2 separate regions of the Homo sapiens genome follow, and region 1 is linked to region 2. A link means that fine-mapping ties the variant in region 2 to the expression of a gene that starts in the linked region. Tissue or cell type: cerebellar hemisphere. Region 2 holds a variant in brackets; the other region holds the start of a gene. All regions are shown on one strand. Distances are from middle to middle.

Region 1 (8,100 bases), 830 kb before region 2:
CCAACCTTTTAATCATGCCTTGTTCTTTCCTGTGACCAACCCCCATACTGAAGCTACCTGGGGCTTGCCAGTGGACGTAGCGGGGGTGTTATGAAGACCAAATATATATTTCACAGTATCACACATTTATAGCTCTTGGGATGTAAAAAATTCTCCATGTCTCTTTGTCCTCACCTGTGAAATAGGGATAAAGATAAGTGCTGCCTCAGAAGGGTGTCATGATGCTTCAAGGAGATAATATGTACAAAGTGCTTAGAAAGATCCCTACACCGAGTAAGCACTCATATTTTATCAGGCATGGGATGGGCCATTTCAGGAAGAGGGAGCTCCTGTTCTCATCCTAAGTCTGAACGGTCCGGAATTCAAAGAGGATCAATAAATGGCCTTTCACCAGGATCACAATGGATTTTGTAGAGTGGTGGGCTGGCAAGCTGATTCAGTGTTCACCATTGCTGTGGTGTAAATCCTCCCAACATGGCCAGTTTCAAGCTAATAATGGTTTAACACCTGGCTTGCACAATTTCTGAAAATTTAATAATCAGCTCTTTTGAGCCAGTGCAAGCCACCTGCAGAACACCATTAACTTTTGCATCACCCAGTTTTGTGAACGCAGGCAGGTCTCTTCCTCCCTCTGTATCTTACTTCCCTCCATCTCTCCAAACGGAGCTAAGCCATCCGACTCACTCATGCAGTACGTATTTATTTGAGTACGTACTACATGTCAGTCACTAGGTTGGGCTCTGGAAATCCAGCCTTGAACAAAAGCAGACCAAAACAAAAACAAAAAACTCCGTGAAGCTTACATTCTGGAAGTGGGAGTAGGGGGAGAGCAACTAAAAATAACAGTGAAAGAAGGAAATCGGCCGGGCGCAGTGGCTCACACCTGTAATCCCAGCACTTTAAGAGGCCGAGGCGGGCAGATCGCCTGAGATCAGGAGTTGAAGACCAGCCTGACTAGCATGGAGAAACCCCATCTCTATTAAAAATACAAAACGAGCCGACTGTGATGGTGCATGCCTGTGATCCCAGCTGCTCAGGAGGCTGAGGCAGGAGAATCACTTGAACCCAGGAGTTAGAGGTTGTGGTGAGCCAAGATCATACCATTGCACTCTAGCCTGGGCAAGAAGAGCAAAACTCTGTCAAAAAAAAAAGAAAGAAAGAAAGAAAGAAAGAAAAGAAAAGGAAAAGGCAAAAGAACATTGTTAGTGCTATGAAGAGGTATGACGTAGAGTTATTGTGCTGGGAGTAGCAGCTACTTTGGAAACTATGATCAATGAAGGCTTCTTAAAGGGGAGAAGATGAGCCTTAAATAAGAAAGAGTCATCTGCCAGTGTGGTAGGAAGAGCATTCCAGCGAAAGAACGGCAAGTACAAAGACCCTGGGGCTGGAATTGTTCGGTTTGTTTAAGGAATGGAAAGAAGGTCACAGCGAGCTGAGTGATTGAGGCAGGGAGTGGCCCTAGCTGGTCCAGGTGTTTAGTGGTGGTTGTTCTGAAGGTGGAGGCAAAGGTAGAGGCCAAGAGAGTAGAGCATAGGCTGCTACAGCCAGAGTCCTACAGGGAGAGGTGGTGAAAGCTCAGACCAGGATGGGAGAGTAAGAAAAGGACAAAGCAGAGATTTGTTTTGGAGACAGAGCCAGCGGTTCTTGCAGACAAATTGGATGTGAGTGGAGGGGGAAGGAATTGAGGATGGATATGTTTCTGAGGCAGAACAGCCCCTACTGGGTAACTTCAAAAGCTCCTGCCTTGAACTGCTACAGAAATAACGTAGACTCAGAGATTATTTTGCTCCTGCGTATGCCAAGGGGACGGGAACAGGAGGGTGGAATACACCTAGTAAACAGATGCAAAGTGGAAAGGGGAGGGAGAAACTCACTACAGGTTTTTGAGGTGCTGGCTGGAGCCAGGAGCTGCTCCAAGATCTCTCATTCTTCTCAATAACCTTGGGCAATAGGGAATTTTCCACCTTGCAGGGGAAGACGCTGAGGTTCTGGGAAGAGAAATGGCTTGTCCAAGGTCACACAGCCAAGTCAGTGAAAGAACAGGGAGCCAGGATGTTTTGCACCTAAACCCTGGATTATGGTTTCCTCCCCACCTGCTCCCCCAAGATAAGTCCCCCAATCCCTTCCCATTGCCTTATTATACTGGGGATGAGGGTTGGGGTGGAGGAAAAAAGCAAATTTCACTCCAAAAGTCAGTGTTTTCGTTATCCATGAAAATAGATGGAAAAGCTGAACTGTGGCCCACAGGAAGAGGGGCCTGGGGGCCTGGCCTCCTGGGTCTGAGGGAGGAGGGGGCTGGGGGCCTGGACTCCTGGGTCTGAGGGAGGAGGGGCTGGGGGCCTGGACTCCTGGGTCTGAGGGAGGAGGGGCTGGGGGCCTGGACTCCAGGGTCTGAGGGAGGAGGGGCTGGGGGCCTGGACTCCAGGGTCTGAGGGAGGAGGGACTGGGGACCTGGACTCCTGGGTCTGAGGGAGGAGGGGCTGGGGGCCTGGACTCCTAGGTCTGAGGGAGGAGGAACTGGGGACCTGGACTCCTGGGCCTGAGGGAGGAGGGGCTGGGGACCTGGACTCCTGGCTCTGAGGGAGGAGGGGCTGGGGGCCTGGACTCCAGGGTCTGAGGGAGGAGGAGCTGGGGGCCTGGACTCCTGGGTCTGAGGGAGGAGGGGCTGGGGGCCTGGACTCCTGGGTCTGAGGGACGAGGGGCTGGGGGCCTGGGCTCCAGGGTCTGAGGGAGGAGGGGCTGGGGGCCTGGACTCCTGGGTCTGAGGGAGGAGGGGCTGGGGGCCTGGACTCCTGGGTCTGAGGGAGGAGGGGCTGGGGGCCTGGGCTCCAGGGTCTGAGGGAGGAGGGGCTGGGGGCCTGGACTCCTGGGTCTGAGGGAGGAGGGGCTGGGGGCCTGGACTCCTGGGTCTGAGGGAGGAGGGGCTGGGGGCCTGGGCTCCAGGGTCTGAGGGAGGAGGGGCTGGGGGCCTGGACTCCTGGGTCTGAGGGAGGAGGGGCTGGGGGCCTGGGCTCCAGGGTCTGAGAGAGGAGGGGCTGGGCCTGGACTCCTGGGTCTGAGGGAGGAGGGGCTGGGGGCCTGGACTCCTGGGCTGAGGGAGGAGGGGCTGGGGGCCTGGACTCCTGGGTCTGAGGGAGGAGGGGCTGGGGGCCTGGACTCCTGGGTCTGAGGGAGGAGGGGCTGGGGGCCTGGACTCCAGGGTCTGAGGGAGGAGGGGCTGGGGACCTGGGCTCCTGGGTCTGAGAGAGGAGGGACTGGGGCTAGTCTCCTAGGTCCATGGGAGGATGAGATTGGGACTTGAAGGAGGAGGGAGCTGGGTTTTAGGAAGTATCCCAGACTCCGTGTTCTGCGGATGTGGTGGAAAGACGTGGGGACGCCTGGGGCGGGAGGGGTAGGGGCCGGGCCGCAGTAACAAAGGCCTCTCCCTCCAACAAGCAACCCCCCCTTGACCCCGCCTCCCCGGCCCCCCACCTCTCCTGATTGGCCGGTCTCCCTGCCCGTCAGCGCCGCCCCCCTCCCCGGGTCTGCAGCAGCTCCAGCCGCCTCGTCGCGCCCCCCCAGCCCCCTCCCCCCGCCCCCGCCGCCCCCCGGGCCGGTGCAGCGCAGGCGGGGTCCCCCTCCCCCTCCCCCCTCTCCCCCCAGGCCTCGCGCGCCCCGGACCGGCCCCCCCTTTCCCCTCCCCCTCCGCGCCGCCTCTGCCGCGATGCCCCCCCCTGCGCCCGGGGCCCGGCTCCGGCTTCTCGCCGCCGCCGCCCTGGCCGGCTTGGCCGTCATCAGCCGAGGTACCGCAGCGCCGGGGGCGGGGGGCTCGGCCGGGACGCCAGGGTCTTGGGTGGGTAATCGGGGGATCAGGGGTGGGGGTCGAGGGCTGCATCCCTGGGCCGGCGCGGGGAGGCCCCGGGACGCCGGGGTCTGGGCCCGGGGGTGGGGTCTGCATTCCCTGGCTGGGCAGGGGGACCTCGGACGTGGGGGTCCGCGCCCCGGGGCAGGGGTCGGCGTCCTCGGGCCGGAGCCGGGTCTAGGGGCGGAGGTCTGCTTCCCCGAGCAGGCAAGAGGGTCGCAGACACCTAGCCCTGCCTGGGGGCAGGAGTCTGCGGCTCCTGTTGAGGAGGGGGCAGACACTGGACTCGGGGTCCCCGGGTCGGATCTCCGAACTGAGTTGGGGTGGGGGGCAGGGGATAATGCCCTGTTAGGGGTCTTCATCTGTACGTGGAGAGGGTCCCTGAAGAGGTCCTTGCCGGGGGCTGGGGTAGTCATCTCGGGACAGAGGTCAGGGGATGGATGCCTTCCCAGGGTCAGTAAGAGGAGGGGACAAGGGTGTCCACAGACCTAGTCCCAGGGTCAGGAAAAGAGGGGAAGGGTCTGAAATCCCCCAGCAGGGTCATCTAGGTTGAGAGAAAGTGTTGGTACTTGGGGAGGTTGCAGTTATGTGGGGGAGAAGGGAGCTGGAGATACAGGAAGTTGGGGTGCTGGGCTGGGGTCTTGGATTCCCAAGCTCTGATTGAATGTCTAGGTTCGTGGGGCTGGACAGTGGAAGAGCGATGGGCATGGGAGGATGAAGGAAAGACGGAAGGGAAGGGTTAAAGCAGGTTGAAGGGTTAACCCCGGCCCGGCCCGGCCCTCCCAGTTGGGGAGAGGGCCAGGGGCAGGTTTCTGCACTGAGGTTAGATAGCTGGACCTTGAGTCTCCCCAGTAGGGCCTGGCAGGCAGGGGGTGGTCAAGGAGATTCCTAGATTTCCCCCTAAGAAAAGGGAGGAGAGTGCAAGGAGGCAGGAGGCTGGAGGGTGGGCGCTCAGGAGGGCAGGGAGCTGGGTTAATTCAGACTTTCTGGAGGATTCCCCCAGGCCCTCCCCTGAACAAAGAGTTCCAGGGACAACCAAGAACCCCGACAGAGTCCCCAAGAGTCTCAGAGAGGCCGCCCGCATAGACCAAGTCTGGCACAGAAACCCCGTCACAGCGTCCCACCCGAAGCAGCACCTGCAGACACCAGTCACACAAACACAGCCCCATCCACGCAGGACGCAGGGACCTGGTGGGCCACAGCCTCAGTCCCTTGCTAGTCCTCCCCCGTCTCCCACCTGACCAGTCTGAATCGCCCTCTGACTTTCTGACCACCTGTCTCTGTCTCTGTCATGCATCTCTTTAGGTCTTTGTGTCCCTGCCATTTCTGGAGGTTCCCATCCCTTCCCATCTCTGTTATCCACTGCTGACTTTCCACCTGCCTCTGTCTCTGGGTCATTGTCTCTCCATCCCTGCTGCTGACAGCACAGTTCCACATCTGTCTGTCTCTGCTTTTCAGACTGTTGCCCATTGCATGACTCAGTCTCTTGATACTTGCTTGCTTCCTCACTTATGCCTTAATCTTCATTAACTTCTCTCATTTCCTTCTCTCATTCATTTCCTTCTTGTTCTGACCTACCTTTCTCTTTTTTCTTTCTCTTTCCTTCTTTCTCTTTCCTTCTTTCTTTCTTTCCTTCTTTCTCTTTTTCTCTCTCTCTCTCTTTTTCTTTCTTTCTTTCTTTCTTTCTTTCTTTCTTTCTTTCTTTCTTTCTTCTTTCTTCTCTTTTTTTCTTTCTTTTTCTTGTTTTTTTGAGACAGGGTCTGACTTTCTCACCTAGGCTGGAGTGGAGTGGTGCAAGCATACACAGCTCACTGCAGCCTCAATTTCCCTGCCTCAAGCGATCCTGCCACCTCAGCCTCTGGAGTAGCTGGGACCACAGATGCACGCCACCACACCTGGCTAATTTTTAATTTTTTTTCTTTGTAGAGATGGGGGTCTCACTATATTGCCCAGACTAGTCTCAAATTCCTGGCCTCAAGTGATCCTCCCACCTGGGCCTCTCAAAGTGCTGAGATTACAGGTGTGAGCCACTGCACCAGCCACCTCTTCTTTCTTTCTCTCCTTGTCCTTATCTCTTGTCTTCTTCTTCCTCCTCTTCTTTCCCTGATCCTGTACCCTTTGTGACCTTTCCCCCACTTTCCTGTTTCTTCTCTCCCTCCCCTTCTCTCTCTCACTGCAACTTCCCATTTTTCACATTCACTATTTTTTTTTTTTTTGAGGCAGAGTTTTACTCTTGCTGCCAGGCTGGAGTGTAGTGGCATAATCTCAGCTCACTGCAACCTCTGCCTCCCGGGTTCAAGTGATTCTCCTGCCTCAGCCTCGCAAGTAGCTGGGACTACAGGTGTGTGCCACCACGCTGGGCTAATTTTTGTACTTTTAGTAGATACAGGGTTTCACCATGTTGGCCAGGCTGGTTTCGAACTCCTGACCTCAGGTGATCTGCCCACCTCAGCCTCCCAAAGTGCTGGGATTACAGGCATGAGCCACTGTCTGGCCCCCACATTCATTCTTAAAGTCCCTATAAATCATTACGGGGCTAGACTGGGGCAGGAAGCTGTGGCAGAGCCAGGAGGTGGCTTGTGACCCTGCTCAAGTCTTTTCCCATCTCTGGTCTTAGGTTCCCCTTTTGAGAACTGGGGACGAGAGGGGATGGGGTGGGGTTGAGACAGAACGAGATGCCAGAAAGACACCCCCACCCACCCATGGATAGTTTGAGCTGTCTGGGAAAAAAAGCTTATGGCAAGATATGCAAACTAGCATCTTCTCTCTTCTTTTATTCATGATCTTGTCCAAGTTACAAGAGGAATACACTGCAAACAGTCCGCCTCTGATAAGGGCAAACCCCATTGTGCTCCTGCCCTGCCACCACTCTCACAACCACTGTCTTGAGAGAACCGGTCTGTGGCTGGAGTGCATCCTTCCATAGCTTTCTCTCACTTCTGCAGACTTAGACACGACACACAGAGGACAACATAAGTGATGGATTGGTTGGTTTGTTGATTTTTTTCCCCCAAAATAGAAACAAAATAAGCCCATTTCTCTGCAATCGGCCTTTTCCCACTTAACCATACCTCCCTTACATCCATAAATATTCATCTATCTTCAATTCTTTTCTAAATCTTTTATGCCAACACACACGCACCCCCTCACATATACATATTTATTTACAAAGCAGCTACATTGTGGTATTTTAAAACAATTCAACAAAATCAAATGGCCGCTTCTGCAGCAGCAAATGAGGTGGGTGGTTCCTTTGCTTCTGGGGCAGCTAGCAGAGTGATGATGGTCAGGAGGGGGCAGGAGCCCCAGATTTGAGTCCCAGCACTGCCCCTGACAAGCTAGCTCTCCCCAGGACCTCTGAGCTCCAGGTTCATCTGGCTTGTGGGCTGTGCTTGGTTGTTGGTTCATATAGCAAATGTTCTTGGGGACCAGGGCCGCTATTCTAGACACTGGATATATACATATGGCAGTGAGTGAACCAGGCAGTCACTGTCCTCACGGAGCTTAGATCATAGTGGGATGGAGAGAGATCAAAGACCAAAACCAAAACCTAAAGACAAACAAATAAAAGATAATTTCAGAGAGTGATGAGTAATGTAAAGAAGATAAAAGTGACTTGGCCTTTGAAGCTCAAGTGGTTGAGGAAACCATCTCTGAGCAGGGGAGAGTGGAGTTAAGACCTGAAGGAAGAGGGAAGTCAACCTTTTTTTTTTTTTTTTTTTTTTTTTGAGACAGAGTCTTGCTCTGTCGCCCAGGCTGGAGTGCAGTGGCACTATCTCAGCTCACTGCAAGCTCCGCCTCCTGGGTTCACACCATTCTCCTGCCTCAGCCTCCCAAGTAGCTGGGACTACAGGCGCCCACCACCACGCCTGGCTAATTTTTTGTATTTTTAGTAGAGATGGGTTTCACTGTGTTAGCCAGGATGGTCTCGATCTCCTGACCTCATGATCCGCCCGTCTTGGCCTCCCAAAGTGCTGGGATTACAGGCGTGAGCCACCACGCCCCGCCGGAAGTCAACCTTTCAAAGTTGACAGCAGAGGTAAAGACCTTGAGGTGGGACCAACAGAAAGGAGGGTAAAGCTGGGCGCAGTGGCTCACACCTGTAATCCCAGCACTTCAGGAAGCCAAGGCAGGTGAATCACCTGAGCTCAGGAGTTGAAGACTAGCCTGGGCAACATGGGGAAACCCCATATCTACAAAAAAAAAAAAAAAAGCCAGGCATGGTGGCACGCACCAGTAGTCCCAGCTACTCAGGAGGC
Region 2 (8,091 bases):
ATCCAAAGGCAATCCAATCAGTATGTTTAAGAGACATCTAGGCCAGGTGTGGTAGTTCATGCCTATAATCCCAGCACTCTGAGAAGCTGAGATGGGAAGATCGCTTGAGACCAGGAGTTAGAGACCAGCTTGGACAAAACAGCGGGACCATGTCTCTACTTAAAAAAACAAAAAACAAAAAACTTAGGAACTTCTGCCCCCTCATGATCACTGCAGTATTATTCACAACGGCCAAGATATAGAAACAACCAAAGTGCCCATCCAGGAATGAATATGTAAAGAAAATGTGTGTGTATATATATTTATGTATGTGTATATATATATATATATATATACAGAGTGTGTGTGTGTATATTTATATAATGGAATATTATTCAACCATAAAAAAGAAAATCCTGCCGGGCACAGTGGCTCACGCCTGTAATCCCAGCACTTTGGGAGGCCGAGGCGGGTGGATCATGAGGTCAGGAGATTGAGACCATCCTGGCTAACACAGTGAAACCCCGTCTGTACTAAAAAAAAAATACAAAAAATTAGCCGGGCGTGGTGGCGGGTGCCTATAGTCCCAGCTACTCAAGAGGCTGAGGCAGGAGAATGGTGTGAACCCGGGAGGCGGAGCTTGCAGTGAGCCGAGATCACACCACTGCACTCTAGCCTGGGCGACAGAGCGAGCGAGACTCTGTCTCAAAAATAAAAAATAAAAATAAAAATAAATAAAATCCTGCTATTTCCAACAACATGGATGAATCTGGAGGACATTATGCTGGGCGATATAAGACTGACACACAAAGACAACTACTGTATGTTCTCACAAGTAGAATCTAAAAAAGTCCAATTCATAGTAATAAGGCGGAACAGTTGTTACCACAGGATGCTGGGTGGGGAAAGTGGAGAAATGTTGGTCAAAGGGTACAAATTCTCAGTTATAAAATGAAGAAGTTCTGAGGAATCTAATGTACTTCGTGGTGAGTTTACCGCACTGGACGCTTTAACAGTTTGGAAAGTTTTTGAAAAATCTAATAAATTATGGGGTAAAAGTTAAAAAAAGGCAATATTGAGAAATTAATGACATCAGCTGATTACAGGATGACATCAAATCTTATTTCAGAAGTTAGTAATTATAGAAGAAACTGAATAAACTAAAATTTAAATCAAGCTTCCAAAATAACAATGAATTAACTGTAAAGCAACTACAAGGAAAAAAGTAAATCCATTAACAAAACAAAAAACCAACACTCTCAACTCTCCTTCAAAGACATACATTGTAGGCCTGTAGAGGTGGTTCACACATGTAATCCCAGCACCTTCAGGGGCTGAGGAGGATGGAGTGCAGCTGAGAGGCTGCAGTGAGCCGATATAATTTTACCGCACTCCAGCCTGGGCGACAGAGACCCTGTCTCAAAAAGAGAAAAAACAAACAAAAAACCAAAGATACATCTTGTAGTGACAGTCAGTCATTTCTTGCCTATTTCTCTCCTCCTCCATCCTCTACTCCCTCCCTGGAAAGAAGAGTTACAAAATGACTGAATCAAGTCACTGCCCTGTGGCTAAATAGGGATTCCAAATATCTTTTGATATAAACAAATACAAAATGCACAAGCCTTGTAGAAAAGAGTGGTAATTTTCATCCTCATGAGTACAATTTAAAGAAACAAATTTTAAATTAGAGTATAAAGTCACAAATCAATACATTAAAACCACCATCCATATCCAATCAACTCACAGCTCATCTGGGTGGGGTCCTCGCCCACTCTCTTCACTACTATGTGTTTCCCGCTCTCATTCTGCACGTCTTTTTTCCCTTTGCTGTTTTTCTCCCCTTTCTTTATTCCCTCTTTTATGTCTATTCTGCCCAATGCTTCGAAATTTATTTCACCTCTTGTTGCTCTTTCTCCCCAAACTTTCCCATTGTCCCCAGCCGCCACGTATTCCTGCCTCTTTTCCCCCATCTGAGCTCCCTGTCTGCTCTCCCTGTTAAAATCCCTCTTCCCTGTTAAATTCCCTTTTCCCTGTTACATCTCCTTTGTTCCCACTCTCTAGCACCCCCAACTTCCTAGGCTTCCTCCTTGCTGTGGTTCTCCCTCTACTCTCCTTTGTTACCCACTCCCCTCTCCTTCAGTCCCAGCACCACGTGGCTCTGTCAGCCGCGGCTCCGACTCTTACCTTTTCCGCCCCCCGCGTCTGACTGCAGTGCCTCCTCCTTTGCCGCCCCTCTCTATTTTGCTGCCCTTCAGCTCCCTGAAGCTCTCCCTTTTCCCTAATTTCTTTATGTGCTTTTCTCCCCGTGCTACTTTCTCCATGCGTCCTCTTGCACTCTTGCTCTCTTTGCCAGTACCTAAATTATCATCCATTTTGCCGTGTACTCATTCTTTTCTCCCCAGTTTTTCTTTCTGTCCCGTCGCTCCCCCTCTTTTCCTCTCCTGATCCCTCTCACCCACACATTCAGGAGGAAAGGGGAGGAATACGATGCCCACCTCCCGGAAGAGCACATTTTCCAGTGGAGTAAAAATTTGGGAAGGAACGACAGTGGGTGTCACAAGACAGACTCGGGTGACCTCCTGCAACGCGGAGTCAGGAAAAGCAGTGGCTGTGAAGGGGCAGCCTGGGGAGGGGAAGGACCCGGCGTGAGGAGGACACTAGGTGGCGCGCGGAGGACACTAGGTGGCGCGGGGGACGGTGTCTCAGGACAGGGAGGGTCTGCAGAATCCCAGGACCTGGGAGAAGAAGCGGCTCCTTCAGGAGCTGGGCAGCGGGCGCTCCCCTCCAGGCGTCGACAAGGGCGAAGCTCGGGGGTCTCGACTGGTGGGAATCCACCTCGCGAGGGAGGACTTGACTTCGCCCGGGGCCGAAGCAGGGGTCAATGAGAGTTTTAAGCAGGAACACGACCTGAATGGGGTTATCGACATGGTTATCTACATGGCAGAAAGGCAGGGGGCAAGGAACAGCCTGAGAGAGATTTTAAACCGACAGGGAAGCAATTCTCGGACTTACGTGGGGAGAAGTGCCTGTTGCAGGGGCGAAGGGGCTATGGGTATTTTAAGGTCCGTAGCGATCCCCAGATCACTGGTACGGAGAAGTGAGGACTGCAAAGTGCACGTTTAATCCAGGCAGACGGAGCGAAGTAATGTTTAATCCACGTAGACTGAAACACACACACAGCGATAAGGCCTTTCCCTGGCGCAATCTGCTTCCGGGAGTGACGGAAACTGCTAGCGGAGAGAAAAAACTGGGAGGCCAGGGGGCGGGGCCTGGGCGAGCCGCGACCAGCAAGGGGCGGGTCGGAAAGAGGGGCCTGACTCGGGGAGGGACCCTGAGAGGGTGGAGCCGGGCCGGAGCGGCAGTGGGCGTGGCTAGGTGGGGCGGGACGGAGCCGCGGCGGAGGATGGGGCGGGGTTTCATGGGGTAAGCGGGGCCGAAATAGAGCCTGTTATTTACTCTGGTTCACAGGCAGCATGTCTTTGGTTTTCTGACTACTTCTTGTCCTGTGAAGCAGCGTTGCTGCCTGCCTATTTTAAGTTAATGTTTCAAAATTTAAGGTTAAAGCTTAAAGTTGTGGTCCACTTATATTAGAAACTAAGATGATTTCTTAACAAGTTGAACTAAGTCAAAACCGATTTTTACAAGCTTGGTGGACTCCATCCACTCTTGCCGATGATGCTGAAGCTACTCAATAGTCAGGGAACTAGGATCTCGCTGGGGATTTGATGTGGAGCCGTGGCTGGATCCAGGAACCCGGAAGACATTATGCCAAGCGAAATATGCTAGACACAGAAAGACAAATACTGCCTGTGCTTTTACACGTGCAAAGTACAAACGTCAAATTTACAGTAACAGATTAGAAGGGTGGTTACCAGGGCTGGGGGATGTATCCTATGCCTTTATCACCATTATATTTTGGAAGCAGATAACTTCTCTGGCCTCACAGATTCACAGCTGGGCAGAAATTTTGCCTCAGGATGAATCACACCTTGATTCTCACCCATGTGTGGTTCAGATAATATTTAGGGGGTATTCTGCCCTAAGAGCTGATACAGGAATGGATTAAGACTTTTGAGAGTTGATACTGAAATGGATTAAGTCTTTTGAGATGGGCCAGCAGTTTTGGAGGCCCAGGTGGGCAGGTCACTTGAGCTCAAGAGTTCAAAACCAGCCTGGACAGCATCGTGAGACCCCCATCTCTACAAGAAATACAAAAAGTAGCCAGGCTTGGTAATGCACTCTTGTAGTCCCAGCTACTTGGGAAGCTGAGGTGTCAGAA[T/C]TGCTTGAGGCCAGGGATTTGAGATCATCCTGGGCAACATAGCCAGACCTCTCTACAAAAAATTAAATTATCTGGACATGGTGGCCTGCACGTGTGGGCCCAGCAACTCGGAAGGGTAAGGAAGGAGGATCATTTGAGCCCAGGAGGTGAAGGCTGCAGTGAGCCATGAGAAGAGGAGATTTGGTTGGGTGCAGTGGCTAACGCCTATAATCCCCACACTTTGGGAGGCCAAGGTAGCAGGGAGCTAACTTGCATTCTTCTGTTAGCTGAGGCGTTTGATGATAAATGAAAGCAGAAAGTTTGTGACTTATTTACGTTCTTTCCACAGAAAGGCCATATGTCCTTGGCCATAAAGAAAAAGAGACCTACAGCTTATCTGCTTCCTCTATTTTTTTTTATATGTTCTGGACCATGAAGAAAGATTTATAGCTTATTTGCTTTATCTCTTTGCTTTCTCCTGGTCCTTTCAGGCTGACTCCTTTTCCCCAATTAGGGCTCCACAGACTCTACCCTCAAAGGGCATTTTTTTCTCACCCTCCTATAAAATCCCTCCCACAAATAAACCAGGATCCTATTTCCCAGCATGAAAAGTTTGTTGGAAAAAAAACTGAGGCTGCATGGGACCTTCTTTCTCTTCTTCAAAACTACTTCACCTCTTCTCTCTTTTGTCTCTCTCTTCCTAACTGCCCTGCACAATTCTAGGTCCCCAGTGAATCCTTGGGTTGACATGCAAGGGAAGAACCCATAGGGAAAGGAAATCTCTGGCTTTCAGAGATAACTTTTTGGATATCTGGATGCATTCATAACCATCCTTGTGTTACCAGAAAGGGGTCCTGATCCAGAACCTGAAACTTCCATTGCACAATTATAACTGAGAAAATTATTACAGTGAAAGAGATCTGACCTAATCAACTCCATCTTGCTTTTAACCTCCAAGCTGCTCTTGTTCATTCCTGGGCATAGGCTGAACTAACTTTGGAAGGAACTTAGTTTATAGTTTGAAACAAAGACATTAACAGCCCTTTCCCAAAACAAACCCCCTTCCTGCTTGGGGACTAGACTGCCTTTGTAAGACTAACAAATTAGGCACAAGGTGAGAGATGATGGTTTAGGAGTCATGTAGCTGGAGGCTACAAGATTCTCACCCTTCCCAGATTGTTCCTGGGGATAACATTACTATTATAAAACCTAAGATCAGTGCTTGAGATATTTTGCATTCCCTGCACTTGATGGATCACCTGACACCAACCCAGATCCATAAACTGGCTCATCTGGTCTTGTGACCCCACCCAGGAACTGACTCAGTGCAAAATGACAGCTTCAGATCTCTATGATTTCGTCTCCTACCCAACCAATCAGCACTCCCGACTCACTGACACCTACCTATCAAATTATCCTTAAAAACCCTGATCCCCGAGTTTTCAGGGAGACTCATGTGAGTAATAAAAAAATTTCAGGTTCCTGTACAGCCAGCTCCACATGAATTAAACTCTCTCTTGCAATTCCCCTGTCTTGATGAATCAGCTCTGTCTAGGCAGCAGGGAAGGAGAACCTGTTGGGCAGTTACAACCAAAAGGGAGGGTTCTTGGATCTCATGCAAGAAAGAATTAGGGGTGAGTTCACACTGTAAAGTGAAAGCAAGTTTACTAAGCAAGTAAAGGAACAAGGCAGGGTGCAGTGGCTCACGCCTGTAATCCCAGCACATTGAGAGAGGCTGAGGTGGGCAGATTGCTTGAACCCAGGAGTTCAAGAGCAACCTGGGCAACATTACAAAACTCTATCTCTACAAAAAATACAAAAATTAGCCAAGGGTAATGGTGTGCACCAGTAGTCCAAGCTAGTTGGAAGGCTGAGGTTGGAAATTGCTTGAGCCTGGGAGAATTTTTTTTTTTGAGGCAGTGTCTGGCTCCGGTCACCCAAGCAGTAGTGCAGTAATGCCATCTCGGCTCAGACTCTAATTCAACACGGAATGTTGAGCTTCTGAGCGTGATATAGCGGAAGTGCCTTCTCTTCCGGTCTCTCTGGTCTTGGCCGCAGAAGCCAGATGACGAAGGGAACGTCATTGTTTGGAAAGCGTCGCAATAAGACGCACACGTTGTGTTGCCGCCGTGGCTCTAAGGCCTACCACCTTCAGAAGTCGACCTGTGGCAAATGTGGCTACGCTGCCAAGCGCAAGAGAAAGTATAACTGGAGTGCCAAGGCTAAAAGACAAAATACCACCGGAACTGGTGGAATGAGGCACCTAAAAATTGTATACCACAGATTCAGGCATGGATTCTATGAAGGAACAATACTTAAACCCAAGAGGGCAGCTGTTGCAGCATCCAGTTCATCTTAAGAATGTCTATGATTAGTCATGCAATAAATGTTCTGGTTTTAAAAAATACAAAAAAAAATACTGAATGTTTACTCCTGAAACTTATGATGCCTAGGTTGAGAAAGACTCAATTTTCCTCATGCTAAATACTTTATACATGTCCTTTATTCATGCATACATAGGACACTTTACACAATATAATTGTTGAAAGTGCTTCTGAAATACTGTTCAAATTGTCTATAATATTTTTACACATGCACTATAAAAATTAAATTTATCAGACAATAAATATTAAATAATTTAATAAAATTGCATTTTTCAAAGGCTCTAACAATGCATATTTGAGTTATCATATTAAACATTGTATTCTATGATTTTTCAACTGTAATATAATTTTTTTTGAGATGGGATCTTGCTCTCTTGCCCAGGCTGCAGTGTGGTGGTGCAATCACGGCTCATGCAGCCTCCACCTCCCCAGGCTCAAGTGATCCTCTCACCTCAGTTTTTGTGTTTTTAGTAGAGATGGGGTTTTATAATGTTGCCTAGGCCGGTCTCAAACTTCTGGGCTCAATCTGTCCACCTCAGCCTCCCAAAGTGCTAGGAATACAGGCATGAGCCACAGAGCCCAGCCAAAACTACATTTTAAAAATAATTTTTTATCATTACACACTCCACTAGAAACCATTTAACCCAATTTATGGACTTACATTTCTTCCATTGAAGAACTTGAAGGATCCAAAAATCGAGGTGACATTCTCAGATTTGTGTGGCAAAAAAAGAATAGAAAAATAACAGATGCAAAGAATGTGTTCCACCAATATGTGGAGGATCCCTTTTATTTTAAGTTCAGGGAAAGCATTGGAATGATACAAGAAAATAAACTGAAATTGTATAATGTGGAAACAAGAGCTCTGTTGCTAATATGCAAGTTTATCACTGAGATTTTAACAACACAACATGCTAATTATACCTTAAAATATGTTTCTCCCAGTCTGGGCAACATGGCGAAACCCCATCTCTACAAAAAAATCCAAAAATTAGCTAGGTATGCTGGTGTGCACCTGTAGTCCCAGCTACTTGGGAGGCTGAGAGAAGAGGATCACCTGAGTCCAGGAGGTGGAGGTTGCAGTGAGCTGAGATCGCACCACTGCACTCCAGCCTGGGTGACTGAGCGAGACCCTGTCTCGAAATATTACAATATGTGACAGCGCAGCTTCCATCAGAAATAATTTGTTCCTCTTTTGCCCACACAAAATATTCACCTCCACTTCCTCTAACATTTTTTTTTAAAAAAAAAAGCCCAAACATAACTTTCAGTTGCAAGCAAGGATCTCATGACAGTCTCATGACACTTCTGTTCACTGAGAGCCCAATAGAGTCCTCGTCACTCACGACATTTCATGGTGGAACAGAAAAATAAAACCTGAATTAACCCTCACATTCAGAAAAGGGAAACAAAGAAGGTACTACCCAGTAGGTCCATAGCAAATGTGCAATTTTGCTGAGAAGATGAGTT

What was found. PIP is the estimated chance that this variant, and not a neighbour inherited with it, causes the effect.
Region 1: IGLON5 starts here. The variant in region 2 is fine-mapped to the expression of IGLON5 in cerebellar hemisphere (GTEx, PIP 0.98).

What each region holds. Positions count from the first base shown.
Region 1 is chr19:51,308,145-51,316,244 of GRCh38, forward strand. It overlaps IGLON5 (IgLON family member 5), which reads left to right and starts at 3,500. Exons shown (of 8, transcript NM_001101372.3): 1 at 3,500-3,782. The coding sequence starts at 3,704.
Region 2 is chr19:52,136,741-52,144,831 of GRCh38, forward strand. ZNF616 (zinc finger protein 616) reads right to left here and starts at 3,198. Exons shown (of 4, transcript NM_178523.5): 1 at 2,992-3,198. It also overlaps the pseudogene RPL37P23. RefSeq lists an enhancer at 2,794-3,033 and silencers at 3,154-3,433, 3,444-3,493. The variant T/C (reference allele first, on the strand shown) is at 4,259.